Linked DNA regions of Homo sapiens. The protein of the gene in region 1 interacts with the protein of each later gene in a biochemical or structural test. Each region holds a gene or a part of one and is shown in the gene's direction. Other genes may lie near its edges.

Region 1 (7,035 bases):
TTCATGGGATCCTTTTACCTCAGCCTCCCAAATTGTTGGGATTACAGGGATGAACTGCCACACCCCAAATGCAGCTTATTATTATTATTTTTTCTTGAGACCAAGTCTCACTCTGTCACTCAGGCTGGAGTGCAGTGGCATGATCTCTGCTCACTTCAGCCTCTGCCTCCCAAGTTCATGCGATTCTCCTGCCTCAGCCTCCTGAGAAGCTGGGATTACAGGTGCATGCCACCACACATGGCTAATTTCTGTAGTTTTATTAGAGACAGGGTTTCACCATGTTGGCCAGGTTGGTCTCAAACTCCTGGCCTCAAGTGATCCACCCGCCTCAGCCTCCCAAAGTGATGGGATTATAGGTGTGAGCCACGGCGCCTGGCCACACCCAGCTTACGTTGTGAATATTTTTGATCCTCAGTTGGTTGAATCCATAGATGTAGAACACAGGAATACAGAGAAGGAGGACCCACTGCCTAGGCAAATACACTATTATTTAGGAAAAAAATTTCAACACATGGACTCCCTTCCCCTGCCCTGAAAATCCTAAAGATCGATATTGATATCAATAATAGATAATAAAAGGATATGATAAGAATCTTGATTTTTTAATTTTAAAACAATAAATTTCCAAAAATTCTGAGGACTAATGTATGGAAAAAGTAAATTAGTGCTATATTAAAAGCATGATCTTTTGTTTTCCTGAAATGGCAGTGGATCTGGGTGGAGTAGATTCTGCTGATCTTTGTCATCTATTCCCTGCATTTGTGAATTGTTACCTGTGTGCAATCTGTGATCATGAGAAGTGCAAAGCTGGGCAATTTGGAATTTAAATCGATGGCTTTGGTTTTATCAACACTGAATTAAACACATAGGCTTCTCAACCTAAACAGAATTCAGGAAGGACTATGGCCTCGGTGCCAAAAATATTATTACATCACTCTACATATTCTTCGCACTTAACGAAACTCTTTCACAATTCTATCAAGTTGGTTTATCTGGTGTTACGAATCCCTATTTAATAAATGAAACTGTGCCTCAGTGTTTTACATACTTCAGGCCATATAGCAAGTAAGTGGCTACCCAAACTCAACCCTCATTCTTTTACTCTAGTTCAATATTTTGCATAATACCACACTGGAACTCAGTTATTCACAGCTGTGTGAATCCTTGAAGGCACATATTTTTCCTAGGTGCCCTAGGTAGAGAGAACCAAGATTCTAATGTAGATTTCCTGATGAAAAGAATTTTGCCGCCATTATCGATCTAGGCTAATATCCTTGGAAATAACTTGAGAACTTATTCATATTTTCTTAAAAATACGTTTTTAAGGCAAGATGTAGTTGAGAAATTTATAATTCCCAATTGTAAGACTCTCAAATTCTCTACATAAAAAGACAAGAACAATAGTAGTTAACATACATGCTAGTGTTTCAAAGGAGATAGCAACTAGTCATGGAAAATCTGGCTTAGTTAGGAAAAGGCTATTAAGGAAAGTGTCAATAATAGTGGGTTCGCCTACCTCATCTGAGGATTTTTTGTTGTTTTTTCGAGACAGGATCTCAGTTTATCACACAGGCTGGAATTCAGTGGCACAATCATGGCTCACTGCAACCATGGGCTCAAGTGGTCCTTCCACCTCAGCCTCCCGAGTAGATGGGACCACAGGCAGGGGCCACCATGCCTTGCTAATTTTTGTATTTTTAGTAGAGATGGGGTCTCGCTATGTTGCCCAGCCTGGTCTTTAACACCTGGGCTGAAGTGATCCTCTTGCCTTGGCATCTCATATTTTTTTATGGTGAGAGAACTAATTGGGTATGGCATTAAACAAAAGTAATTACATAGCTCTGGCTAAGTACATTATATACATGCATTACTATTAACACAGGAACTGGAAAGATAAACCAACAATATTAACATATTTGCATCATACCTTTTCTGGGGGGGGCAGGAAAAAGAGTAGGAAATCATCATACCACTCTGAGAAAAGTGCAGAAAGTAATACTGTCCTGTTCTCTGAAGGAAAATTATTGAGTTATTAAACCAATTTTGGATTTTAGTTTGGATGTTGGAAGACTTGGTTGTGTATACTTTGGGCAGGTTTCAAGCTTGCTGCTTCCAAATCGAAGAAAGAAAATAAACCAAATAGCAAAAAAGATTTAGAAATAAAAGATACTTTATTTCATCCCTCTCCAGCATCCAATGTAGAAAATAATAGCAGTTATTTACTGAGGGCTAACTACGTGCCAAACACATGCTACTATGTACATTGCATACCTTTTTCCTTAATCTTTCAACCATGTGAAAATAGATGATACTATCTTTTCACAGAATAGGAACTCGAAGCTCAGAAAGATTAGTAACTAAGATGACACAGTGAGGAGGAGGCAGAACAGAATCCATCTGTACTTGCTTCTGAGTTCATCCTCCTAACCACTATTCAGCGAGGCAACAGTAAATTCCCTTTATGGGGCTTCATAGCAAAGAGCTGGCAGAGTATTATCTAAACTAGAGATGGCATTAATGTTGGTTTTTTATATATCACAAAGCTTCCCTGGAGCCATCGTTAACTATCAGGTTTCATAGCTTAATATATCATTATTATATTATCAGTAGGAAAACGGCTGAAGTCTTGCTATCGACGACATCATAAGAGTTCCTTGGTTCCAAGAAATAATAAACCTCAATGTCAAAATTGTTGGGAAGCTCTTCTCTAGAATTTATCTCACAGAAATTGGGAGGTCCTCTAATTCGATAAAATCTTTCAAATTGAAACCCAATCTAAAGTACTTCAGAGTATATGTTTGTTGTTGTTGTTGTTGAGAAAGTCTCGCTCTGTTCCCCAGGCTGAGTGCAGTGGCGCAATCTTGACTCACCACAACCGCCGCCTCCCGGGTTCAAGCAATTCTCCTGCCTCAGCCTCCAGAGTAGCTGGGATTACAGGCGGGCGCCACCATGCCTGGCTAATTTTTGTATTTTTAGTAGAGATGGGGTGTCACCATGTTGGCCAGGCTGGTCTTGAACTCCTGACCTCGTAATCTGCCCGCTTCGGCCTCCCAAAGTGCTGGGATTACAGGTGTGAGCCACCATGCCCAGCATAGAGTATATGTTTCAAAATGTTCGTCACATTGAAACTATTCAATTATGTTAAAAAATGTAATACACTAAAACACTGCAAATGAGATTGAGACACTACTGTCCCCAAGCAGCTGGAGATGTACATAGGTGTTAATAACCTACTAGTTGGAAGGATAGTACTGTGTGTACAGTACCATTACTTTAACCTCATCATTTGCAACTGATTGCATTGCATGGACCCTCTAACTGCCTGAAAATCATGTCAGAGTTACTCCATCGACATTTGCCGAACATTTGTCATGTGGCAAAATACTTACTGTAGAAAAGTTGACACATAATAGCTCTGAGGTTTCACTAAATGAGCTTTACACACCAGGCTACAGGTACAACCCATTGATGTGTAGTCTCCAAAAAATATGGTTTATGATTTGATTAAAGAATACTGCCTCGCCAGAAGCTCCCTAAGTATAGACAAAAAGGGTTTCGTGACCAGTGAGGTGACTTGGCTTCACCGTTTGCTGTCACAGAACTATTCCGTGGAGGATTTCATAAGTAGTGAGGGAGAGGTGGAAGACCCGGCTGAAAATAAAGTGGGAGCAGCGGGTCGTGATCTGTTGGTGGCTGGGGACTCGCCTAGACGGAAGAAACACGGAATCTCTACTAAGGCTGTGGAAGGCGTCAGGGCAAACCTCAGACTCCTCTCACTGGACGCGTTCGCGCCACCTGTCAGACGGGAGGAGCCGCCAGGGATTGAGAGGGTAGGGAAGGGGTGTCCGGGGCCCCGGAAAGCGGCTGCGGGTCGCAGGTCTCCGCCCGAGAGGCGCTGGGAATGGGGCTGGGAGTGGTGGGGGCGGCGTGCTACATACCGAGGAGACTTCACGTGGTCTCTAGAGCCCTGCTAGGGGACCCGGGACGCTACCGCGCGCCCCTCCCCTGAGGTCTCAGCTCCTCCTCCCAGGCACGTGATCGCAGCCGGCTGGTAACTGCGCTCCTGCAGCGTAGCTCGCTCTGTTTCTTCCCTCCCGCCGCGGTGCCCTTCTTCTCCCCCGTTCCCATCCCTCCGCCTTCCCCCGCCTCTCCCCCCACGCCCCAATCGCGGCTTGAGATTAGAAGCGCCCGCCCCTCCACCCTTTTCTTCGCTTGCTCATTGGCTGAAGTCTCAAGGACGCGTCCCGAGGGCGGGTGGCAGCCATTGGTGGGATGAGCAATCCGAGTTCCCGGATGAGGGAACATTCTGCAGTATAAAGGGAGCAGGGAAGGCGGGAGACAGCGCAGTTTGAATCGCGGTGCGACGAAGGAGTAGGTGGTGGGATCTCACCGTGGGTCCGATTAGCCTTTTCTCTGCCTTGCTTGCTTGAGCTTCAGCGGAATTCGAAATGGTAAACTTCGCAGAGACGCTCGATGACTCCGCGGGTTTTTGCCGGCGAGAGAAAAACCCGTTACACAGAGGGATGGGGGTGAAGTGGCGACGGTTGGGAACGCGCGGAGACAGGATTTAGAAGAGTGGGGGGAGGTGTTTTGTCGGCTGCTAGCGGAGCAGCCTCGGATCTCGCGGCGGGCGGCGACGGTTGGGTGGCGCGCGCAGCGCCGCTGGGGGCCGGCGGGCGGAGGCGCGCGGCCGTGGCGAGCGCGCGGCGGGGGGCGAACGGGCGGGGTCGCCCCTGCGGCGCGCCGCGGGCCGGAGACCCCGGCAGGGTGCGGGGACGCGCTCGCGGCGGGACGCGCCGCGGTGGGGGATGGGCGCGCCGCCTTGGTAATTCTATATTCTCCGTTCCTCCTCCGCTCGCGGGCGTGTGCGCGCCGCAGGCTGGCGGTAAGGCTGGAAAGGACTCCGGAAAGGCCAAGACAAAGGCGGTTTCCCGCTCGCAGAGAGCCGGCTTGCAGGTCAGTAGTTGTTCGTGCAGTCTGGGAGTCATGATGTTTTTCTTTGCATTTCCTTTTTTGTTATTCATCGCTCTCGATGGGCGTTTTGTGTATGCGTGGGTGATGCGGTGTCGCGACTTGGGCTGCCCATACGATAAATATGGGGGGGAGGAATCACGTGTTTCGATGTCGGGACGCGTTGCTGCGCCCGTGCCCCTTGCTTTGGCGCGCATATAATTTCCCCATCTCTAGTTCTCATTTTTGTGCATTTATGTTTGTGTATGCTTAAAATTTAAGTTCCCAGTGGGCCGTATTCATCGACACCTAAAATCTAGGACGACCAGTCATGGACGTGTGGGCGCGACTGCCGCTGTGTACAGCGCAGCCATCCTGGAGTACCTCACCGCAGAGGTAAATGGGTGAACGCCTATAATCCGGAGAAGGTTTGGGGGGCGGGGAGGCGGCAAGAGGGAAGGAGGAAAGTGATGCAAGAAAACTCCCAGGCCCTGAACGCGGCGAGAGGCCTAAGAGAACGCTAGAGGGAGCTGGTGTTCAACAAGGATCCTACTGAGCTTGAGTTCTCTGCTCTTGGAATTAAAATTGCGTGCCCCCTGTATATCTTGCCAGTCAGATAGTGAGGAACGATTCCAGTTGGTAGATCTGCGTTTGTGAGGGTTTTATTCTGTTCTCTGAATCTTGGCCAAAGGAAAGTTGGAAGGCAACTGACAGATTCTGCCTTTTAGGTACTTGAACTGGCAGGAAATGCATCAAAAGACTTAAAGGTAAAGCGTATTACCCCTCGTCACTTGCAACTTGCTATTCGTGGAGATGAAGAATTGGATTCTCTCATCAAGGCTACAATTGCTGGTGGTGGTATGTTAACTTCTAACATTTTAAAAAATTTCTTCAGAGGAAGGAATTTTTTGCTGCTTTTAATTAGTTTTTCCAGGAGAGGAAATTTAAGTATATTTTCAATGATGGAAGTATGGTTGTATCATGAAATTTGATTTATATGTATAACTCAATGAATTTTTACTTCATACTTGAGCTGCATGTTTTTAAAGATACCTTTCAAGTTGAACAGTATACACTTTCTTGGTTTCAAATACTGTGATTTTTTAAAAAATCTTAAGTAGAATTAATTCCTGTCACTCTCCTAGGTGTCATTCCACACATCCACAAATCTCTGATTGGGAAGAAAGGACAACAGAAGACTGTCTAAAGGATGCCTGGATTCCTTGTTATCTCAGGACTCTAAATACTCTAACAGCTGTCCAGTGTTGGTGATTCCAGTGGACTGTATCTCTGTGAAAAACACAATTTTGCCTTTTTGTAATTCTATTTGAGCAAGTTGGAAGTTTAATTAGCTTTCCAACCAACCAAATTTCTGCATTCGAGTCTTAACCATATTTAAGTGTTACTGTGGCTTCAAAGAAGCTATTGATTCTGAAGTAGTGGGTTTTGATTGAGTTGACTGTTTTTAAAAAACTGTTTGGATTTTAATTGTGATGCAGAAGTTATAGTAACAAACATTTGGTTTTGTACAGACATTATTTCCACTCTGGTGGATAAGTTCAATAAAGGTCATATCCCAAACTAGTTGTGTATTAAATTTGCTTGGTTGTAATAGGAACTTGTTTTGAGTATCTCATCTAGCAGCAATAACTAAGCACATTTCTTTGTGACTGAACTGTCAAATCTGTAGATCAACAAAGTGAGATAGCCCAAGTATATTTTTTTAATGTTATATGAGCTACTAAAGTTTTAATTTAAAAAGTTGGCAGGAGCTGGAGTGGGATTGTCAGTTTCTTAGGCTAAGTGTGACCATTTCAGTTTGTACATTGGCTTCGCTTGCTGTGTGACAGCACTGCACTAGTATGCTGTTAGCATGGTGGACTTGGGGAGGGAGAGAATAGGTAGGAATGTCCTGTATATCCACAGAATGAACTCCGAATTTAAACTTTAAAGATAATAGTGCTACGTGCCAGGCCCTGCTTTGAAGTCTGAAGTTGTTAAGTACTCAGTAACATCATTGGGGATATACTATCTCCATTTTATCGAAGAGAAGCAGGGTTTCTTATTTGAAAGTACCGAGTTATG
Region 2 (7,025 bases), on another chromosome or scaffold:
ATATGTAGGAAAGCTATTCAGTGAAGAATGAAAGCTTCCTTTTTCCTTCTTCCACCTCTCCACTCCCGTTCCTTTTCCATTTATATCAGTCTCTATCCCCAAAGGTAACCACTATTAACAGTTTCTTACAACTTTTTTCTTGCCAGGGTGCGATGGCTCGGGCCTGTAATCCCAGTACATTGGGAAGCTGAGGCGAGAGGATCGCTTGAGCCCAGGAGTTTGAGACCAGCCTGGGCAACAAAGTGAGACCCTGTTTCTTCAGAAAAATTAATAATGAGCCGAGTGTGATGGTGCGTGCCTGGAGCTCCACCTGCTGGGAGGGGCTGAGGCAGGAGGATCCCTTGAGCCCAGGAGTTTGAGGTTACAGTGAGCTGATCTCGCCACTGCACTTCAACCTGGAAGACCATCTCAAAAAAAAAAGCTTTTTTTCTTTATTGACCTAAAAAGGATTATATAAAGCAATCACACTGTTTTGCTGCTTACATTTTTTCCACTTGATAACATCGTAGAGATTTTTCATATTACTACATGTAGTCAATCTAATTCTTTTAAAGAGTGGAATAATATTCCATTTTATGGATGTAAATCACATTTTGAAAGTAAGGCACATTAAATTTTTAGATAATGTATTAAACTTGGATGTTCTGCTTCCTGTAGTTAAATTGCTGCCTGTAAGAAAATGAATTAAATGGTGTGTGATAAAACACATACTTTAAGATCAGAGGGTACTGTGGGGCCCAGTGGTTTGAACGAGCCTGGCAGAGTAACCTGGGAATGCTGTTGAAATACAAACTCTCATATTTACTCCAAATCTATTAAGTCAGAGTCTCTAGGGATGGGACCTAGGGAATACAATCTTCAGAGGCATGTAGGGAAGTGTGAAACATTCAGGTTTGAGAGCCTGTGAAAACAATTCTTCAGCTTTCAAACAACGAATATCTTAACATACACTTACCATTGAATCATGGGAAGTTCAATAGAATAAAAAAATATATATGTATATACACTTAGCAAAATGAGTATACGCAGAATTGGGAATTTTTTTCTTTTTTGAGAGGCCTACCATTAATAATAATGTACCCAAATTTTGGGTTATATGCCCCTTTTTATGTGTCTTTTTTAAGTAGAATCGCTTTAGAAATACACAATCAGGAAACTAAATAAAAGTCATTGACCAATGGAATAATAAATGGAATAGGGAAGAAGTATATCTAGTTTTCCCATGGTATTATAAGAGTAGATTTATTGATACTGTAGAATAATTTTTTTAACTTTTTTTTTTTTTGAGACAAGAGTCTCACTCTGTCACCCAGGCTGGAGTGCAGTAGTGCAACCTCAACTCCCGGTTCAAGCGATGCTCCTGCCTCAGCCTCCAGAGTATCTGGGATTACAGGTGCCGCCACCACATCCTGTTAATTTTTGTATTTTTAGTGCCGATGGGGTTTCACCATGTTGGCCAGGCTGGTCTTGAACTCCTGGCCTCATGTGATCCACCCACCTCAGCCTCCCAAAGTGCTGGGATTACAGGCATGAACCACCATGCCCAACCTAGAATAATTTTCTATTTATTTATGAAAGTTTGGTGGTTTAAGGCCAAATATTCACCATCACCATATATGAACTTTTCCATTAGGGTAGTAAGAAACTTACGAGACTGGTACAGCAAGTAAATATTTGTGATTTTTATTAATACGCCCTTAAAGTCCAGAACTAAAATATTATTACATAAAACTATTCTTTTGGGTATATCCACAGCTCTCTGAATATGTCCATATAGATAAAAGTAATTATATAAAAGTATTTATTAGAAAAATCAACAGGCTGGGCACAGTGGCACAGACCTATAATCCGAACACTTTGGAAGGCTGTGGTGGGGGAATCACTTGATTCCAATAGTTGGAGACCAGCCTGGGCAACATAGTGAGACCTCATCTTTACAAAGCATTTAAAAAAAAGTAGCTGGGCATGGTGGCACATGCCTGTGTCCTAGCTACTCGAGAAGCTAAGATGGGAGGATTGCCTGAGCCCAGGAGGTTGAGGCTACAGTGAGCTATGATCACTCCACTGCAGTCCAGCCTGGATGACAGAGCAAGACTCTGTCTCAAAATAAAACAAAAACAACCCACCTAACCAAGCCTGGTGGCTCATGCCTGTAGTCCTAGCTACTTGGGAGGTGAAGGTGGGAGGATCACTTGAACCTGGGAGGTCAAGGTTGCAAGGAGCCATGATTGCTACACTGCACTCCAGCCTCGGCGACAGAGTGAGACCCTGTCTTAAAAAAAAAAAAAAAAAAAAAAAAAAGGCCGGGCGCGGTGCCTCATGCCTGTAATCCCAGCACTTTGGGAGGCCGAGGCAGGCAGATCATGAGGTCAGGAAATCGAGACCATCCTGGCTAACACAGTGAAACCCCATCTCTACTAAAAAAAATACAAAAAATTAGCCGGGCATGGTGGAGGGCGCCGGTAGTCCCAGCTACTCAGGAGGCTGAGGCAGGAGAATGGCATGAACCTGCGGGGGTGGAGCTTGCAGTGAGCCGAGATCGCGCCACTGCACTCCAGCCTGGGCAACAGAGCGAGACTGCGTCTCAAAAAAAAAAAAAAAAAGGAAAGAAAGATCAACAGGAATTATCAGCTAATGAGGTTAGTATTATGCCTTATTTTGTGCTTGATGTACAGTAAAAATGTAATTAATTTAGACCAACTTGGATGAACATAGTTTATTCTGATTTTTGCATGGTCAATATTCTTCAAGAGATGTACAGAATTTAAATATAACTATAATTTCTGAAAAATGCTATGGATTTCTGAATTAGTCAAATTAATAGCTTATTTTATCATAAAGTTCTCTCTCATAATGTCTGTTATGCTTTTTCTATTGTTGAAGAACAATTTCTGTGAGGGAAGTATCTCGGCTTCTCCCTTGAATTCCAGAAAATCTGATCCAGTTACACCCAAGTCTGAAAAGAAAAGTAAGAACAAACAAAGAAACACTGGAGATATTCAGAAGTAAGTGAACATGACTATGAATTATTTGTTGACCTCCTACTGTATGCCAGTGTTTTCTGTTCATATAGACTACTACTGATTCTCAAAGTTTGGTCCGTGAACTTTGTATGAAAATAGTCTGAGGTTGAGGTAAATTGAAAAGGAGAGAGCTACTCACACAGCTTCCTCTTGGCTTCTCACTCAGCCACTTACTGTGGCAGATTCATACTTTTATCTTACTGCCTCAGGATTTCCAGTTTTCTCAAAGTGAACCATTGGATTCCTCTTTCTCTTGGTTTAAATTCAGATGAAAAAAATGGGTCCCAGATAGGCTTATCTTCACTGAAAGAGTTTACAATTTGTCATTTCTTCTCTATTACACAAAATGCATGAGTCAGGTAGACAAAGGTGGCGTGATTGAGTTTCACCACAACACCCCTCCAGGGTCAGGTGCCAGGTGGAGTTGGTGGCTTTACGCAAACATCAGCTTTCCCATGGTAACTCACAGTTGGAAAAGTTTAAAAACCACAGTCTAGACTTGAAAAATACATAAGGACTTCTGGTTCAACTGAGGAAATATGTGCAGGTAACTCATCTCCTTCCAAGATTTGTTGAAATTTTGTATTTGAGGTGGGAGGAAGCTTAGGAGAAGAGAATGTTAAATGAGGGAGGTACTATTAAAAAAAAAAAAAGATGTGACAATATCAGTGTCGCCAGTACTCATAATGTGCAAAGTAAAAATGAGAAAACCGCTAAAATGCAGAAGTATTTCATATTGATACAATATGCTGTTTAAGGCTATAACTCATGAATCTTTATATATCTAAATATATACTTTGAAATACATAAAAATAAAAAATTACCAGAGATACAAGAAAAACTAAGGATTTAAAAGCAAAAATTGAGAAACTGATGGATTAAAGTTGTAACAATATTAAAAACAGATAAAGTCTGTTTTCTAGAATATATGAAAACTCTTATAACTCAACAACAGAAGACAAATAATTAAAAACTGGACAAAGGGACTTGAGTAGACATTTTTCCCATGATGTACAAGTGGCCAATAAGTACACGAAAATATGTTTAACATCATTAGTTATTAGGGAAATGCATATCAAAACCACAGTGATATAGCATTTCATACCCATTAGGATGGCTATAATCCACAAAAAGGGAAAATAATAAGTGTTGACAAAGATGTGGAGAAATTGGAATCCTTGCGCATTGCTTGGTAGGAATGTAAAGTGGTATCGTGGCTGCAGAAAACAGTTGGTGATTCCTTGAAAAGTTAAACGGAATTAGCATATGACCCAGCAATTCCACTCCTAGGTATGTACCCAAAAGAATTGAAAGCAGGTATTCAAACAAATACTTGTACATGAATATTTGTGTCAACATTATTCAAATAACCGAAAGGTAGAAACAACCCAAATGTCCATTAACAAATGAATGGGTAAACAAAATGTGGCATTCCATTTTATGTGAATTACACCTCAATTCAAAAGTTTAAAAATGAATAACAGGATTATATAGTTTTAAAATTAAGAAAAATTTCTAAACAACTTGTTGATTAAAGAGTAAATTTTGTTGGAAATACAGAACTGAAAATATGCATGAAAACTGGTATGTGGCTAAAGTGGTATTTAGAAGGCTTTACGTGCCGTATCAGAAAAGAAGAAAGGGCAGCCAGGTGTTGTGGCACGTACCTGTAATCCCAGCTACATGGGAGGCTGAGGCAGGAGGATTGCTTAAGCCCAGGGAGTTTGAGTTTGGGACCAGCTTGGACAGCATAGCAAGATCCTGTCTCTAAAAAAAAAAAAAAAAAAAAGCCAGGGACAGTGGCTCATGCCTATAATCCCAGCACTTTGGGAGGCTGAGGTCTGAGGTGGTAGGATTGCTTGAGGCCAGGAGGAGTTCAAGACCAGCCTGGGCAACATAGTAAGACCCTGTCTCTACACAAAATAAAAAAATTAGCCAAATGCAGTGGCACATGCCTGTAACCCCAGCCACTTGGGAGGCTGAGGTGGGAGAATTGCTTGAGCCCAAGAGGTCGAAGCTGCAGTGAGCTATGATCATATCTCAAAAAAAAAAAAAAAAAAAAAAAAAAACGCAGCTGAAAACGTATTTAAAAAGACAATTCCAGGAATACATTGCTGGTTTAATGGTAGAAAATGAATCACTGTAAGTTATTCAATTAGCTGTATAAATATGAAATACACGAGATGATAATTCTTAATGAAGTGGTAACAGAAAGAAACTTTCTTAACCTGTTGAAGGATATCTACCAAAATCTTACATCACATATCATACTTCATAGTGGAACATCGAAATTATTTCCTTTTTTTTTTTTTCCAGACAGTCTTTCTTGCCCTGTCACCCAGGCTAGAGCGCAGTGGTGCGATCATGGCCCACTGCAACCTCAAACTCCTGGGTACAAGTGATCCTCCCGCCTGGGCCTCCCAAGGTGCCTGGATTACAGGAGTGAGCCGCCACGCCCCGCCATTCCCCTTGTAAGGTCAGGAATACGCAAGGGTGGCCTGCTACTCTCCACCTGCATTCAGACTCATGCTGGAGAGTTTAGTCTGCACAGTAACACAATAAAAGGAGATAAAACATATCAGCCTGGAAAGGAAGGAAAAAGCAGCTATCATTCTTCAGAGGCGGTATAATTATCTATGTAGAAAACCCAAAAAGTCAGAGGTACATTTTTAGAATGAAGAGTTTAGCAAGGTTGCCAGATATAAAATCTGTACAAAAAGTCAATTGTAAAATGTAACTTTAAAAATACTCTGTCGATAGTAGTATCAGAAAATAAAAGTACTTAAAAATAAATGTGTTAAAATCTGAGGCAAGCATGGTGGCTCATGCCTATAATCCCAGCACTTCGGGAGACTGAGGCGAGAGGATTGCTTGAGCCCAGGAGTTCAAGACGAGCCCGAGCTGCACAGGGAGACCCTATCTCTTAAAAAAAAATTAAAAAATTAACCAGGCATGATGATGCACACCTGTAGTCCCAGCTGCTCAGGTGGCTGAGGCAGGAGGATCACTTGAGCCTGGGAGGTTACGGCTGCAGTGAGCTGTGATTTTACCACTGCACTCCAGCCTGGGCAACAGACAAGACCATGTCTCAGAAAAATAAAAATCTGTACGACCCGTGGAGAAAATTGTATTATATTAAATATACAATATTCATGGGTTAGAAGATGCCTAATACTACAAAATGGTCAGATCTCCTCAGACTGATCTATAGAGTCAGTGCAATTCGAATCAGAATTCCAACTTTTCAAATTTTTCTTTTGAGACGGAGTCTCGCTCAGAATCACACAATACTAATCAATAAAGTGTTTAGAGATGCAAAAGTGTGGCAAATCTGTTTTAAAAAGTAAGATATAAGAAACTCAGGATAGTATGAGGTGGGAGATGACGAGGCCCCATAGGAGACTTTCAAACCAATGATTTCTTTTCCCTTCAACCAAGTAATAAGCATATGGGCTTTCATGGTAATACAGATTTTTAAACTTTTTAGAAGAATAACACATTTTTTTGTTTTGTTTTTAATGGACCACAGAGCAGCAAACATATATTTTAAAGTGCACCAGTCTTCGGCACCATAAGACAGGGTAAAAAAGAAAAAGTAAAAAATTTAAAAAGACGGTGCACCAATCCTAAGTATACTTTCTGGTGAATTTTTGTGTGTGTATAAACCACCCACCAGATGAAGACGGAATATTTACAAAGGTTTGCTTGTGCCCTTTCCCTTTCCAGTCAGTGTCCCCCTCCCCGTGACCGTGCTGTACTGTGATTCTTACATGTATTGTATGACTGTTCTCTCATAAACTTTGTTTTCATGAGGCAGACTTGGAAAGATCTTAAGACATTAGTGAAAAAAGCAAATCACAAGCCGGGCGCAGTAGCTTATGCGTGTAATCCTAGCACTTTGGGAGGGTGAGGCAGGCAGATCACTTGAGGTCAGGAGTTCAAAACCAGCCTGGCCAACATGGTGAAACCCCGTTTCTACTAAAAATACAAAAAAATTAGCCA
Region 3 (7,010 bases), on another chromosome or scaffold:
CAATGAACAGGACATCCCCCGACAACAACAAATTTGCTGGTCCAAAATGTTGATAGTGTTGAGGTTGAAAAACACTGACCTGGAGAGTACAGAATTTTACTCTACCAGCTTTGTCACATACCTCATCAATCTATCTGTTTTCATACATTTAAAAGTAAACTGCAGACAGTACGCTTCTAAGTACCTCTAATGCACATCATTGGAGTTCAAATTAAGGATTTTTTAAGGTAAAAATGAAATGCATACCTTAAATACACATCAGTTTTTAAATGCACACGCCTATGGAACTCAAGCCATATTAACATATAGAACGTTACCATCACCCTAGAAAGTTCTTTCATGCCCTTTCTTAGTTCCCAACCAGTTCTCCCCAAAGGTAACCACTGTTCTGATTTTTTCCCCCACCATACTTATTTTTCTTGTTATAGAACGTCATATGGTTGGAGTCATGCAATAGATATTTTTGTGTAAGGGTTCTTTCACTCAGGGTAATATTTTCATCTGATATCATGTGTATCACTTTCTTTTGATTGCTCAGTAGTATTCCATCATATGAATATACCAGTTCCATTCTTGTTTTGATAGAAACCTGGGCTGTCTTCAGTTTTTTGGCTATTATAAATAAAGCTGCTGTGAACGTTCTTATATAGCATTTTATTGCTCATGACTTTCTTTTCAATAAATATTTATCGAGCACTTACTATATTCCAGGCATTTCCAGGTACTAATTATAGCCATGAACAAGACAAAGATGTCGCATCTCTCAAAGAGCTTATATTTGCACATTTCTGTGTATGTATGAAGAGGGCTAAACATAAAGGTAAAAATAAAAGAAAATTATGGGCCGGGCACAGTGGCTCATGCCTGTAATCCCAGCACTTTGGGAGGCCAAGGCGGGCAGATTACCTGAGGTTGGGAATTCAAAACCAGCCTGACCAACATGAAGAAACCCCGTCTCTACTAAAAATACAAAAATTAGCTGGACATGGTGGTGCATGCCTGTAATCCTAGCTACTGGGGAGGCTGAGGCAGGAGAATTGCTTGAACCTGGGAGGCGGAGGTTGTGGTGAGCCGAGATCACGCCATTGCACTCCAGTCTGGGCAACAAGAGCAAAACTGCGTCTCAAAAAAAAGAAAAAAAAAAAAAATTATGGCTGGGTATGATAGCTCATGCCTATAATCCCAGCACTTTGGGAGACCAAGGAGGATCACTTGAGCCCAGGGTTTGAGACCAGCTTGGGCAACAGAGACCCCTAACTCTACAAAAAACACAAAAATTAGCCAGGTGTGGGGGCGTGTGCCTGTAGGCCTGTAGTCCCAGCTACTCAGGAGGCTGAGGTAGGAGAATTGCCTGAGCCTGGGAAGTTGAGGCTGCAGTGAGCTGTAACTGCACCACTGCACTCCAGCCTGGGCAACAGAGTGAGACTCTGTCTCAAAAAAAAAAAAAAAAGAAAGAAAATTACCAGATAGTGGATAAACTGCTGGGCAGAGAAGTAAAGTAAGGTGATGTGAGTGATCAGATGACTGTGTTACTTAGATTGCCCTGTAACTGGAAGGAAGTGACTTTTAAGGCATGTATAGAAGCTGGGTGTGGTGACTCACACCTGGAATCCTAGTGCTTTGGGAGGCTGAGGCTGGAGTATCGCTTGAGGTCAGGAGTTTGAGACCAGCCTGGGCAGCAGGCTTTTGTAGAGACACGGTGACTTCAAAAAAAAAAAAAAAAAGTTAGCTGATGAGGTGGCACACACTTGCAGTACCAGCTACGCGAGGCTGAGGCATGAGGATCACTTGAGCACAGGAATTCAAGGTTACAGTGAACTATGACTGCACTTCAGCCTGGGCTACAAAGCCAGACCCTGTCTCTAAAATAAATAAATTAAAAATAAGGTGTGAACAGAATGACAATAAGATACCAACCCCGGAAGATCAGGGGGAAGAGGCTTTCTGACAGGAAGCACGTGGTACAATGACCCTAAGGCTCTGTTTTAAAATGCGTGGGGGCAAAAAGCCTGCATTTCTGGAGCTTGGAGAAGAAAGCTTTAAAAAATTATCTCATCCCACTCCTGTTCTTTTTTGCATGAGAGCTGGAGCCTATGCCCTACCACACATCCGTGGATATGCCCAGGATTTGACTTGGGCCTTCGAACTTTGCACAGTAGCTGCTACTAACTTTTTGAGATAATACATTCGTGGGGGCTCAGTCCTGCCTCATCTAAATCACCAGAGACCAAACAAGGACCAGCCCAATATCTCTTGGACTGTAATGTCATAATGTTGTCAGAATACAGAGAAAGATGAAACTAAGCCGGGTCCGGTGGCTTATGCCTGTAATCCAGCATTTTGGGAGGCCGAGGCAGGTGGATCACTTGAGGCCAGGAGTTCAAGACCAGCCTGGCCAATATGCTGAAACCCTGCCTCTACCAAAAAAATACAAAAGTTAGCTGTGTGGTGGGGTGGCACGTGCCTATAATCCCAGCCACTGGGGAGGGTGAGGTGGGAGAATCGGGAGGTGGAGGTTGCAGTGAGCTGAGGTCGTGCCACTGCACTCCAGCCTGGGTAACAGAGTGCAACCCGGTCTCAATAAATAAATAAATAAGTAAATAAAACAAAAATTATCTCAGCAGTAAAAAGCAAGAGAGCTAGTTTTCCCCCAAATTTAACCAAATGTTACTCTGGTGGTTAGTATGCCACCATCTTAAACTCCTTTTATCTGATTAGTAAGGATGGACATTTATTTTATGACCAATTGTTCTTTTATGGTGAATTACCTGTTTACATATCTATTTTTCTATAGCTATCTGCAACTCCCCCGACCCCCACGGTAGCGATTACTATCTTCTCTACTAAACTAAGACTCCAGGGCAGAGAGGCCTATGTTTAATTCATTTGAGGAAAGGCTTGGCACAAAGTGTGCACTTACATATTTTCTTTTTTTCTTTTTGAGAGGGAGTTTTGCTCTTGTTGCCCAGGCTGGAGTGCAATGGAGTGATCTTGGCTCATTGCAACCTCTGCCTCCAGACTTCAAGCGATTCTCCCCCTTAGCCTCCCGAATAGCTGGGATTACAGGCGCCCGCCACCACGACCGACTAATTTTTTGTATTTTTAGTAGAGACGGGATTTCACCACGTTGGCCAGGCTGGTCTCGAACTCCTGACCTCACGTGATCCACCCGCCTCGGCCTCCCAGTGTTGGGATTACAGGGGTGAGCCACCGCGCCAGGGCTCGCACTTACAAATTTTCAAAGAATGGACAGTAAATATTTGAAAATCCCCTCCTCCCCCGCAATTTATCTGACACCGTCTTTCGGTTTTGCTTTAAAAATTCACTCTCGCGGCCGGGCGCGGTGGCTCACGCCTGTAATCCCAGCACGTTGGGAGGCCGAGGCGGGCGCATCACAAGGTCAGGAGTTGGAGACCAGCCTGGCCAATTGGTGAAACCCCGTCTCTACTAAAAATACAAAAATTTTAGCTGGGCGTGGTGCCGTGCGCCTGTAGTCCCAGCTACTCGGGAGGCTGAGGCAGAAGAATGCACTCCAGCCTGGGCGACAGAGGGATATTCCGTCTCAAACAAACAAAAAATCACTCGCTGCGTTTTTTATTCTGACATGGTGCAGGAAGGTAAATTCAAGACAACTTAGGTACTCAGTTTTAGAAGTCGACAGGACAGAATTACGGAAACAAATTTAAGCGTTCCCCCTTTTAGCTCCAAATATAATGTGTTCCAGAAAGGTAACCATCTAGGAAACTCCAAGGCTCAGACCACCACCGGATGCCCACACTTCAGGAGCATTTATATAACTTCGTGGTTATGTCAGAGACGAGAAAACCCATTGACAACCAAACCCCTAAACCCGAACATCCGGCGCAAGCCGCACGCAGGCGCAGATTTACTAGCGTCAGAGCCGATGGTCCCGGGAGGTGGGGGTGGGGTGGTGGTGGCCTAGCCACTTCCCATAATGCCGCGTTCCGGAAGTTATTGCTTTCCAGGGGTCACTCTGGCTTCGACTCCGTCGCTCTCAATTCGTCACCAGGAGGAAGACGGAGCTGGCTGCCCAGCCCAAAGGCCCATGAGGGGATGCAGTTATGGGCTCTGTCGCCGTGGGTGAGTTCTGGTCCCACTGCCTGGCAGTCGTCGCTCGCCTGGCTTTCTGCGCTGGGAGAGCTCCTGTTTTCCGCCCCAACTTCGTTCTCTTCTTGAAGGCCGCTCTCCTTAAGCACGTAACCCGGCTACTTTCCGGTACTGCGATCTCATTGGCTGCATGTTCTGTCAGTTCCAGAAGCTGGCCAATGAGATGCCGCTGCTGGCGGCCTTCTCGACCCCGTGGACCCAGAGGTTCCCCCGTGGGATCGGAGCAGTTAGAAGGGGAGGAGAGGGAAGGTGTGGCAGGCGCCGAGCAAATGGGTGGGTGGCGCGTGGCAGGGACTTCCCTATGGGTTGGAGCTGGATTTGCAGCCGTGTTCATACGGCTGGTAGGAAAAGCAGGATCTGTCACTTATCCAATTGACTATATCTAGGAGGGGATTGATATACGCAAAACTTGAAAGCCACGTTAACACCTGCTGACAAAGTTTTCCACACGCTTACATTTTTAATGGAACCGAGTAGGCAGGGGAAGACTGGGAGGGCAGAGAGTGAAGAGACTTGGAATAATATGAGAACCGGCAAGACTATCTTTGATTTAGATTTTGTATGGAGTCCTGCGAAGAGTCATTTCACTAAGACGTTAATGCTCATCCGATGACACTACTTGAAAAGTGTATTAAGTTTATTGATGTTTTATAGCTGATGGAAGTCACAATATGCTCTCCTCATGACTCATTAGTTGCCTTTATAGTTGTCAGAACTTTACTGAGGCTCTTTCCGCAGCACTGGAGTGACCCCTCTGTCCTCTGCCTGCAGTAATTAACAATTCGTCTTTCAAGTTTTCCTATGGAGTCTAAGCTGCTGCAATCCTCAAACCAGATTTACTAGTGCTGTCTTCACTACTGCAGACTTCTGACTTCTCATTTTTCACCCTTTTCTTTTTCACCAGAACTTGTTTGCTTCATTCTTATGTACCTACCTTTGCACCTTGTAATCATCCTTTATGCCTCAGGTACTATTCTATTTTTCTATTTCAATGCAAGAAGTATTTCTTCAGGACCTGCTATGTACTAACATTATGCTAGATATTATAGGCAGTTCCAAAACTGTGCTTGAAACCATTTATTTTTCTAAGAACTTTAGATTCTGCTTACAGAAATAACATAAACCCAGATTAAAGATTTAAGAAATTCACTAGAATATGGGATAAGGGGACAAGATGACTAGAGCATACCATAAATACTGGGGAAGTTCAGTGGAGAGGTTTATTTAGAGTAGAATGATTGTCTAAGGCTTCCTTGAAATGGAGAGCTTCCAAGATTGGTAAGATTTAGATAGAATATTACAGCTAGAAATCAAAGACATCAAGGCGGGGAGGGTACAAAGTGTTTTGGAGTGGAGTACAAGAGAAGGACTTGGCCAGGTGCTGTGGCTCACGCCTGTAATCCCAGCACTTTGGGAGGCCGAGGCAGGTGGATCACGAGGTCAGGAGTTCAGACCAGCATGGCCAAGATGGTGAAACCCCGTCTCTACTAAAAATACAAAAATTAGCCGGGTGTGGTGGTGGGCGTCTGTAATCCCAGCTATTCGGGAGGCTGAGGCAGGAGAAGCACTTGAACCCGGGCGGCAGAGGTTGCAGTGAGCCGAGATCGGGCCACTGCACTCCGGCCTGGGCGACAGAGCAAGACTCCGTCTCAAAAAAAAAAAAAAAAAAAGAGACAGACTTGATTGGCAGGTAAAAAGTGGTGGTCTTGAAACCCAAACATCTGCATTTTACCTTTTTTTTTTTTTTTTTTTTTTTTGGTAGAGATAGAGTGTCGCTTTGTTGCCCAGGCTAGTCTTGAACTTCTGGCCTCAAGCCGTCCTCCCACCTCGATCTCCCAAAGTGTTGGGATTACAGGCGTGAGCCACCGCACCCAGACAACATCTGCCTTTTAGCTCATCGTTTGTGTGATCTTTCACCATTTTTTTTTCCTGACTTTTCTCCTTGAGTGAAATGCCTCTATTTAAAGTGTTGTTATGAAAATCCGATGTGATAATGTTTGTGAAAGGGCTTTGAAGATCAAAAGCACTATATAGTTATAACTTTAGTGGTTTTTTTTGTTGTTGTTGAGGTGTAATAGAAAGTCAGGATTAGCCGAGCAATGGGGCCGAATTTATAAAGGCCTATGAGTGCAAAGTTTAGGGAGTGTGGTCCAGGAAACTGTTAAATGCTTCCGATCAAGAGAGTGATATGATAAAAATGGCATAACTGGGAGATGAATCTAGTACTGAACTCCCACATCGATTAGAGTGAGTTGGATTGGAGGCAAGAACTTGGGTGCTATTTTATGTATTTATTTCTAAAATCTATAATTCTATATAATTAGGTAGACCTGTATGTACTTTTAGCACTTTTCATGTTTTCTAAGTTTGAATTGTTGACTAAAAAAGTGAAGATTTGATGTGCAGCTAGATTTGTCAAATAGCCTTCCAAAGTGGTTTTGGCAATAATATAATAATGTAAATAGTTGAGAATGCAGTTGTAATCAATTTTCATTTAGCTGATACGCATAGGAAATCCTGGTGTGGAAAATGTACAACAGTGTATCACTTTTTGTATTTGGCTTTGAAGCCATTTTGGAAATTTTCTAACTCCCTTCAGGAGGTTGTTAGAATTATTTTTAATTTTTATTAGAGAAATTATCAGTTTAATTTGCATAGACTGCAGAGCTAAGAAAGGTAGCTTAGAAGGGAAGCAAATCAGTTTTCTGATTAAAGTGCTGCCATTATTTCACATGTATGTAGTGAGGAGTCACCTTCCTAAGAGTATCAAGTTCTGAGACTGTTCAAGATCTGTGTAAGATGACCAAGGTTCTCTCCTGACCTTTACATATATTGAAAACCTCTTAAGCTTGCTAAGAATCACTTTCCTATGCTATGAAAAA
Region 4 (7,606 bases), on another chromosome or scaffold:
AAACTATGATAGATACAAGTGGAATATTACTCAGTAATAGACTGGAATCGACTATTGATACATGTGACAACACAGATGAATCTCAAAGGCATTATGATGAATCAAAGAAACCAGCCTTAAAAGATAACATACTTTATGATTCCATTTTTATTACATTCTGGACAAGTCAATACTATTGTGACAGATGACAAATCTGTGGTTGCCATGAATTGGGATGTGGCGAAGGCATGAGTACAACTTGATGGAGTTTTATAGAATGATGGAACTATTCTGTGTCATGATTTTGGTGGTCGTTTCACAAATCTAAAACTCAGAAATATCTGCCCCCCCAAAAGTGCCATATTTTGCTGTCTGTTAATTTTATTAAGAGAAGAACTCCATAAATAGAGAACAAATAATGAAACAAATAAACAAAGCCAAAAGTTGATTCTTTGAAAAATTAATAAAATTGATAAGCCTCAAGCAAAACTTGAAGTCTTGATTAAGAAAAAAGAAACCAGAAATTAGCAATGTCAGGAATGAAAGAGGGGACATCCCTACAAACATTAAAAAGATATTAAGGAACTCACATTAATGATATTAAGGAAATAATTGTGAACAACTTTATGCCAATAAATCTGACAACTTAAATGAATTAGACAGATTTCTTCAAAGATACAAACCATTTCCCCTTATATCTCATGGACCAGAAATGAATCACATACTCATTCCTCGGTGCCAGCAAGGCAAAGCGAGGGTCTGGCACAGGGAAGCAGAATGGTCATGGATAGCTTAGCTCAATTACACTTTATTGCTTACAGCTGGGCACACTGTTCCCCCTCTCCATCCAAAAAAATCAGGAGTGTATTAGAAGCAAGGGAAAGCACTTTGTGTGGGAAGCTAACGATGCTTGCCTATTAGGTTTTCAGTCACTTGCAATCAAAAGACTCCTCATACTGTATACTTACTAGCTAAAATGGAATCTTTAAGCAATGTACTTAAAGTGCCCAGAGGGAGATACTTTTGAGCTGAAGGGGACTGAGAGCTCCAAAGCCTGGAAAAAAAATCAGTCTTGGATGGAATCTGATAACACCAAATCTGAAGGTCTATGCTTTCCTTCCAGTGTGAACACTTTTTTTTTTTTTTTGATCAGGATCTCACTCTGTCCACAAGGCTTAAGTACAGTGATGCGATCAGAGCTCACTGCATCCTCAACCCCTCAGGTTCAAGAAATCCTCCCACCTCAGTCTCCTGAGTACCTGGGACCAAAGGTGCAGGCCACTATGCCCAGCCTGAAAACTTTTCTGGCTGGCTTCCTCCATTTCAGGGTGCCTCCCTTCCCTCTTAGCACACTATCTCATTTAGGAGCCCTTACAGGCCTTCTGCTTTTCTCTACTGTAGCACTTCTACACTGCCTTGTGAATACTTGTTTTTTTCTGTTGTTGTTGTTTATTTCCTTAACAAGATGGTAATGTTAAAAGAAGGAATCAAACTGGACATGGTGGCTCACAACTGTACTCCTAGCGTTTTAGAAGGCTGAGGCGGGAGGATCCCTACCAGGAGTTCCAGGCTGCAGCAAGCTGTGATTATGCCACTGCACTCCAGCCTGGGCAACAGAGTGAGATCTCATCTCTTTTAAAGGGAAAAACAAAGACGGAATCATGACTTCATTTTATTCATCTCTATTATCTCTGGTACCCAGGTAGTATCTGTCTGGTCATTTTGTTCGTTTTACCATTAATTAATGAATCAGATGTTTGGTATCAAGGCAAGGTTGAAAGATTTGGCTGGTAAAGAAATGAACCCTTTTTGAATTTAGACATATTATTATTTGCACAGACATTGAAAGCAAAAGCAAGTGCCAGCTCTCCATGAGCTTTTGTCTCAGATACCAAAATGATGACACCAAAACAGAAGGGGCTGGATGACTACAGCATACACTGTGGACACCTTGTTGCTGAGGGGTTAATGCCATGCTGCAGCTAAGCCTTGTTATAACCTGCAGCTGTACTCTAAGAGGGTAAGGCAGAATGGCTCGTTGGAACCCAGGAAGCAATAGAAACTGCCTCATGATAGTCTCTTTGGAAGACAGAGAGCTGAGTGGGAAATGGCCTTGCACTAGCTGCTTACAAGCCTCTCATGCACTCATCTTCTGGGAAGATCCCAAGGTGTTCTGCCAAGACTCAGATCAGCTGTGGTTCAGGCATTGCCTATGTGGCCTATGTGGATATGTGCAAGGTTGTCAGGCCCGGGTATGAAGCTGCTCCCTCCATTCAGGTTGTCCAGAGGAACATGTTTTATCTTGACTAGATCTTTAAGATGGCAACAAGGGCCACCATTCAGGAAAAAATCCCAGAGGACCTCAGAAGGATGGTGTTTCAAAGCGGGTGTTAGTAGCCCCTGCCCTCAAAGGAGTAACTTAGTGAGGAAAACCTTACTGTGGTTTCCATTTAGTAGTTTACAAATAATTAATAATAATAGAATGGAGGCCAGGCACGGTGGCTCATGCCTGCAATCCTAGCAATTTAGGAGGCCAAGGCAGGAGGGTCACTTGTGCCCAGGAGTTGGAGAGCAGCCTGGGAAACATAGGAAGAACTCATCTCTGAAAAACAAACAAACAAACAAACAAATTAGCTGGGCATGGTGGAGCACACCTGTTGTTTAAGGACTTATCAAAAGTGTAAGTCCAGCCTTCCATAAGCATTTCAAGATAAATTATTACAGCATAAAATGGAGGCCTTTAAATAGGAGAATGAAGTGGTTTGATTTGTAATTTTAAATGATTGCATCAACAGCTGTTTTATGGTATAAAATGCCCAGTTAGGAGGCTGAGGCGGGAGGATCACTGAGTCTGGGAGGTTGAAGCTGCAGTGAGCCAAGACTGCACCATTGCCCTACAGCCTGGGTGACAGAGCAAGACCCTGTCTCAAAAACAAAACAAACAATATAATCACAGGAAAAGGGTTTTGTAAAATTTTGCAACATTTTTAACTTCCTCAAGGTTAGGTTTCAGATTTATTATTTTTGTTTTCCAACATTAATTAGATGTAAAAACTCTTAAAACAAAAATGCCTTCAGCTAGCCTTTACAAATCAGATAAGAGGGAAAGGTTGGGAAGAGCAGCCAAGTTGCTTAGGGGCCGTATCCAAGTAGCAGAGTGAAAAGGCTGTACTTCTGAAGCTTCCTGCAATGGAGAGAAGTGTTAGCAGGGGTTGTGAGAAGAGCTCTGGTCGGAATGAAAAGCAGTGGTATACCATCAGCTGCTCGCTCACTTGCTCTCTCATGCACGAATCCAGCGGAGCCTGACGGCACTTTTCAGAGGGCATTTTCTCCAATGAGGCAAAAAGTCAAAGCCTGAGGATCTTGAAATGCTTATGTTAGGCTGGATCTACACTTTTGACCAGTCCTTAAACAACAGGGCTCCTTTGTGTGGTGTCTGATGCCAATCATGTGACCTAGCTAAAGGCAGCAATGTAACCATCCCACAATTCATTTATTTATTCAACAAATATTTATTGAGTTCTCTATTTACCAGGCAGTCAGCTTCCAGGATCTAGGATGGGATACTGTGGTGAGCAAGACAGACAAGGTCCCTGCCCTTAAGGGACTTAAAGACAAAACAAAACAAAAAATAAAACAAGTAAATAAATGAGATCACTTCCATTAATAACAGTGCCATGAAGGGTCATGCGCCATGAAAGGCAGGTGGTGAGGCTGAGGATCTTGGGCCACAATGAGCCGAGGAGCTGAGGTGACTGGGGGCGCCAGGGTCTGGGGGTGCGGGCAGGCAACAGACCACAGGGGACTTACAGGCCATTATAAGGAGTTTTTATGTCATAAATTATTATGACATAAATTGGAGGGCTTTAAATAGGGGAGTGAAGTGGTCTGATTTGTAATTTTAAATGATCGCGTCAGCAGTTGTTTTATGGTATAAAATGCCCAGCTTTAAGATGACCATGCATTCTACAAATTCACCGTGACATCACTGCCAAAACTCTTAACCTGTCTTATCTAGTTTTCCTGACAGATAAATAGGTCGGAATAAAGCTCCATGACATAACTAGTGGGAGCCAAAGATTTGAATCACGTCTTGGTTTCAAATCTTGCTACCCACAAATGAGTTGTGAGCTCTTGTCAGGTTATTTACTGTATTTGTGCCTCAACTATCTCAGCTGTGAAATGGGGATAATGAAAGTTCCTACATCATTTATTTGTGGAAAAAAAAATGACATGTAAAGCACGACGAGAGCGCCTGGCACAATGTAGTAAGCTTTCACAAACACTCACTTTCATTCCTTCTTGCAGGGGATTACTGAGAGGATCCACAAGATAATGCACGTGAAAGGGCTTGCGAAATTGTAAGGACTATCTTAATGGTAGAGTCCTCTTTATGTTTTCTTTTAAACGGTCCAGAGGACGCTGGGCTGTTCGAGGAGAGGCGCGAGGCCAAGCGCAGCCTCAATGCGGTCATTGTCGTGGGGCCGCCCCTCCCCCGCCCGGGGCGCTTCTCCATGGCAACGTGGGCTTTACCTCTCCCCGCCTCCTCAGGCCCGCAGACCGGAAGCAGCCCGCGCCGGGGGCTTCTGGGAAAAGGCTTGTGAACGGCGTTTCTGCGTCTGCCGTGGACAGCGAAGCTGCTGCGGTTCCTGAGCCGGAGGTTTGCGCCGGTGTGCGGGGAACGTTATGAGAGGGAGGGGGGACACCGGGCTAGGGTCTGCGGACCTCTTAGCAGGAGCCGGCGGGGAAGCCTGTCCGGGACCTTCCTCAGCTTCCCGGGAGGCGCGGGGAACAGGCCGCGGTCTCCGCGCCTAGCAGTTGTGGGGCGGGGAGGGGTAGGCGGCAGGCCTGCTTGGGTCTTCGGCATTTGCAGAGAGCTCTCTAACCCCCTGTGTCCTCCGAGACCCTCACCTTCCCCCTCCCCCACCGGCCGGTTTTGTTCTATTTCGAGGCCCTGGCGTCTCGCGGAGGGTTCTGGGAGTCGTGATGGGAGGGGGTGGTAGTGGGACGAGACTTGCGCGGGGCTTCTGGGATTTGTAGTCTCACCGGCCGCAGGCGGAAGTGCCGTGGTTCCGACGCTGTTGTCACAGGGTGGCCTTTGGTCATCTGAAATCCGCGGTCCTGAGTGCTGGGAAGAGGGGCTAGAGGACGTCGGGCCGGGGCCGGGGCCGGGGCCGGGATACACAGCAGGTCTATGCAGCAGTAAGGTGGGCGATCCACCTGGGACGAGGTACCCTGCCCAAACATTGTCGGGACCGTGGGCCTTCCCTCCATTTCCCACAAGCGGTATGCTCTACAGCATAAAAGGAAGAGAAAATTATGTAGAAATACTTGCACCGTTGATAAGCAGGGTCTTGGAATAGGAACGAATGAATGTTGGCTAGACCTTATGTATAAGGCCACCACACTCCAGGGTATTTAATTAAACCAGTATGTATTACTTGTCTGATAAGGCCTTTTCTGATTCTAGTCTTCATCTTGCTTGGGTTACAATAAGTTTTTTTAAGTTGTTATTGTTCAGATTTTGGGCCCTGAATAAATAAATAGGCTGAATGGCTCATTGCTAGTATGTGTCGTAAACAACAGCACGGGCATGATCGTGCAAATAATAAAGGTCCAGAAGCAGTATACAGTTTCACTGAAGGTAGAAGCTGGGGAAACTGTGAGTCCTCCAGTGTAAGGACAAGACACTGGACCACTGCAGGAAGTCAAGGTGCTTATGCGAGTGCCTTTTCTTAATAGAAGTTTCTGTGATTAATGCCTATCATTATAAATATAAATGTACGTATGGTGTGGTGGAAGACTGAATATTTACGTATTATGTGCAAGATAATTTTTCAAAATTATGTGATGTTTTTCACATATGATCTTTTCAATATTATGTGATCTGCTACTCAGCAAGTGAACATTTTTTCACATATAAGTCCAAGGAGTTCTTAAACACCTTAAAAATATTTTTTAAATGGTAAAGAAAATTTTTTTAAGCACATAATAATAAAGCGAACCTTCCTTTTGAGTTGACTTGTGTGTGTCAGGAAACACCAATCCTGAATTGGAAATAATGCGTTCCAGGGTCAGGCACATTTAGAAAGCACTGAAGTAGTCTGGTTCTTACTTGGATTCTTTTGATTATTGACATAGGGTTTGTCGTCTTAGTAGGTCATGATTGGCAAACTTTTTCTGTAAGCGGCCATATAGTAAATAAGGTCATGCATAACTCAACGATAGTGCTATGGTCTGAGAAATATGTTAGGCTATTTCATCCTTGTGTGAACGTCATAGAATGTACTTGCACAAACCTAAATGGCGTAGCCTACTACACACTTAGGCTATCTGGTATAGCCTATTGCGCCTAGGCTACAAACCGGTACGGCATGTTGCTGTACTGAATACTGTAGAGAATTGTAACACAATGCTAACTATTTGTGTATCAAAACATAGAAAAGATAAGAGTAAAATATGATATAAAATGTTTGAAAAAAAAAAAAGATATGCCTGTACAGGGCACTTACCATGAATGGACCTCGCTGGATTGGAAGTTGCTCTAAGAAGTCAGTGAGTGAGTGGTGAATTTGGAGGCCTGGGACATTATTGTACATTCCTATAGACCATATAAACACTGAACACTTAGGCTACACTAAATTTATTAAGAAAACATTTTTCTTCAATAATTAACCTTAGCTTACTGGAACTTTTTCACTTACAAACTTTTACATTTTTTTTTAACTTTTTTACTCTTTTGTGATAACACTTCACTTAAAATACAAACACATTGTACAGCTGTACAAATATATTTATATCCTTATTCTGTAAGCTTTTTGCTTTTTTTTTTTTATAGACAGAGTCTCGCTCTGTCGCCAGGCTAGAGTGCAGTGGCGCGATCTTGGCTCACTGCAGCCTCCACCTCGCGGGTTCAAGAGATTCTCCTGCCTCAATCTCCCCAGTAGCTGGGACTACAGGCGCAATCCACCACGCCCAGCTAATTTTTGTATTTTTAGTAGAGACAGGGTTTCACCATGTTGGCCAGGATGGTCTTGATCTCTTGACCTCGTGATCTGCCTGCCTCAGCCTCCCAAAGTGCTGGGATTACAGGCCTGAGCCACCGTGCCCGGCACAGCTTTTTGCTATTTTTAAATTCATTTTTTAGAGACAGGGTCATACTCTGTTGCCCAGGCTGGAATGCAGTGGTGTGATCATAGCTCAGTGGAGCCTTGAACTCCTGGTCTTTAGTGATCCTCCTGCCTCAGCCTCCTATAGTGCTGGGATTACAGGTGTGAACCATTGCACCTGGCCAATTTTTTTTTTCTTTTGGAACTGTTTTTGTTAAAAGCTAAGATAAACACATTAGCTTAGGCTTACACAGGGTCTGGATTATCAGTATCATTGCCTTCTACCTCCATATCTTGTCCCACTGGAAGGTTTTCAGGAGCAGTAACATACATGGAGCTGTCATCTCCATAATAACAGTGCCTTCTGTAATACCTCCTGAAGGACCTGCCTGAGGCCATTTTGCAGTTAACTTTTTTATTTAGTAAGTAGAAGGAGCACACTCTAAAATAATATAGTATAAAAAGTATAGTAAATACATAAACCAGTAACATAGTCGTTTATTATTGTTATCAAGTTT

What was found.
Region 2: of the proteins of H2AZ1 (region 1) and RNF168, one has a biochemical effect on the other in vitro, tested with the Homo sapiens proteins (3 studies listed by BioGRID, with this or other methods).
Region 3: of the proteins of H2AZ1 (region 1) and USP16, one has a biochemical effect on the other in vitro, tested with the Homo sapiens proteins (one study listed by BioGRID).
Region 4: the proteins of H2AZ1 (region 1) and ZNF24 form a complex in vitro, tested with the Homo sapiens proteins (one study listed by BioGRID).

What each region holds. Positions count from the first base shown.
Region 1 is NC_000004.12:99,947,584-99,954,618, reverse strand, and holds H2AZ1 (histone H2A.Z), read left to right. Parts: upstream 1-4,343; 5' UTR 4,344-4,448; coding exon 4,449-4,451; intron 4,452-4,878; coding exon 4,879-4,956; intron 4,957-5,232; coding exon 5,233-5,346; intron 5,347-5,678; coding exon 5,679-5,808; intron 5,809-6,095; coding exon 6,096-6,157; 3' UTR 6,158-6,531; downstream 6,532-7,035. UniProt on the Homo sapiens protein: Variant histone H2A which replaces conventional H2A in a subset of nucleosomes. Nucleosomes wrap and compact DNA into chromatin, limiting DNA accessibility to the cellular machineries which require DNA as a template.
Region 2 is NC_000003.12:196,479,750-196,486,774, reverse strand, and holds part of RNF168 (E3 ubiquitin-protein ligase RNF168), read left to right. Parts: intron 1-2,883; coding exon 2,884-3,005; intron 3,006-7,025. UniProt on the Homo sapiens protein: E3 ubiquitin-protein ligase required for accumulation of repair proteins to sites of DNA damage. Acts with UBE2N/UBC13 to amplify the RNF8-dependent histone ubiquitination.
Region 3 is NC_000021.9:29,020,677-29,027,686, forward strand, and holds the start of USP16 (ubiquitin carboxyl-terminal hydrolase 16), read left to right. Parts: upstream 1-3,991; 5' UTR 3,992-4,101; intron 4,102-4,151; exon of another isoform or gene 4,152-4,401; intron 4,402-5,032; exon of another isoform or gene 5,033-5,095; intron 5,096-7,010. UniProt on the Homo sapiens protein: Specifically deubiquitinates 'Lys-120' of histone H2A (H2AK119Ub), a specific tag for epigenetic transcriptional repression, thereby acting as a coactivator.
Region 4 is NC_000018.10:35,341,403-35,349,008, reverse strand, and holds the start of ZNF24 (zinc finger protein 24), read left to right. Parts: upstream 1-4,588; 5' UTR 4,589-4,649; exon of another isoform or gene 4,650-4,955; intron 4,956-7,606. UniProt on the Homo sapiens protein: Transcription factor required for myelination of differentiated oligodendrocytes. Required for the conversion of oligodendrocytes from the premyelinating to the myelinating state.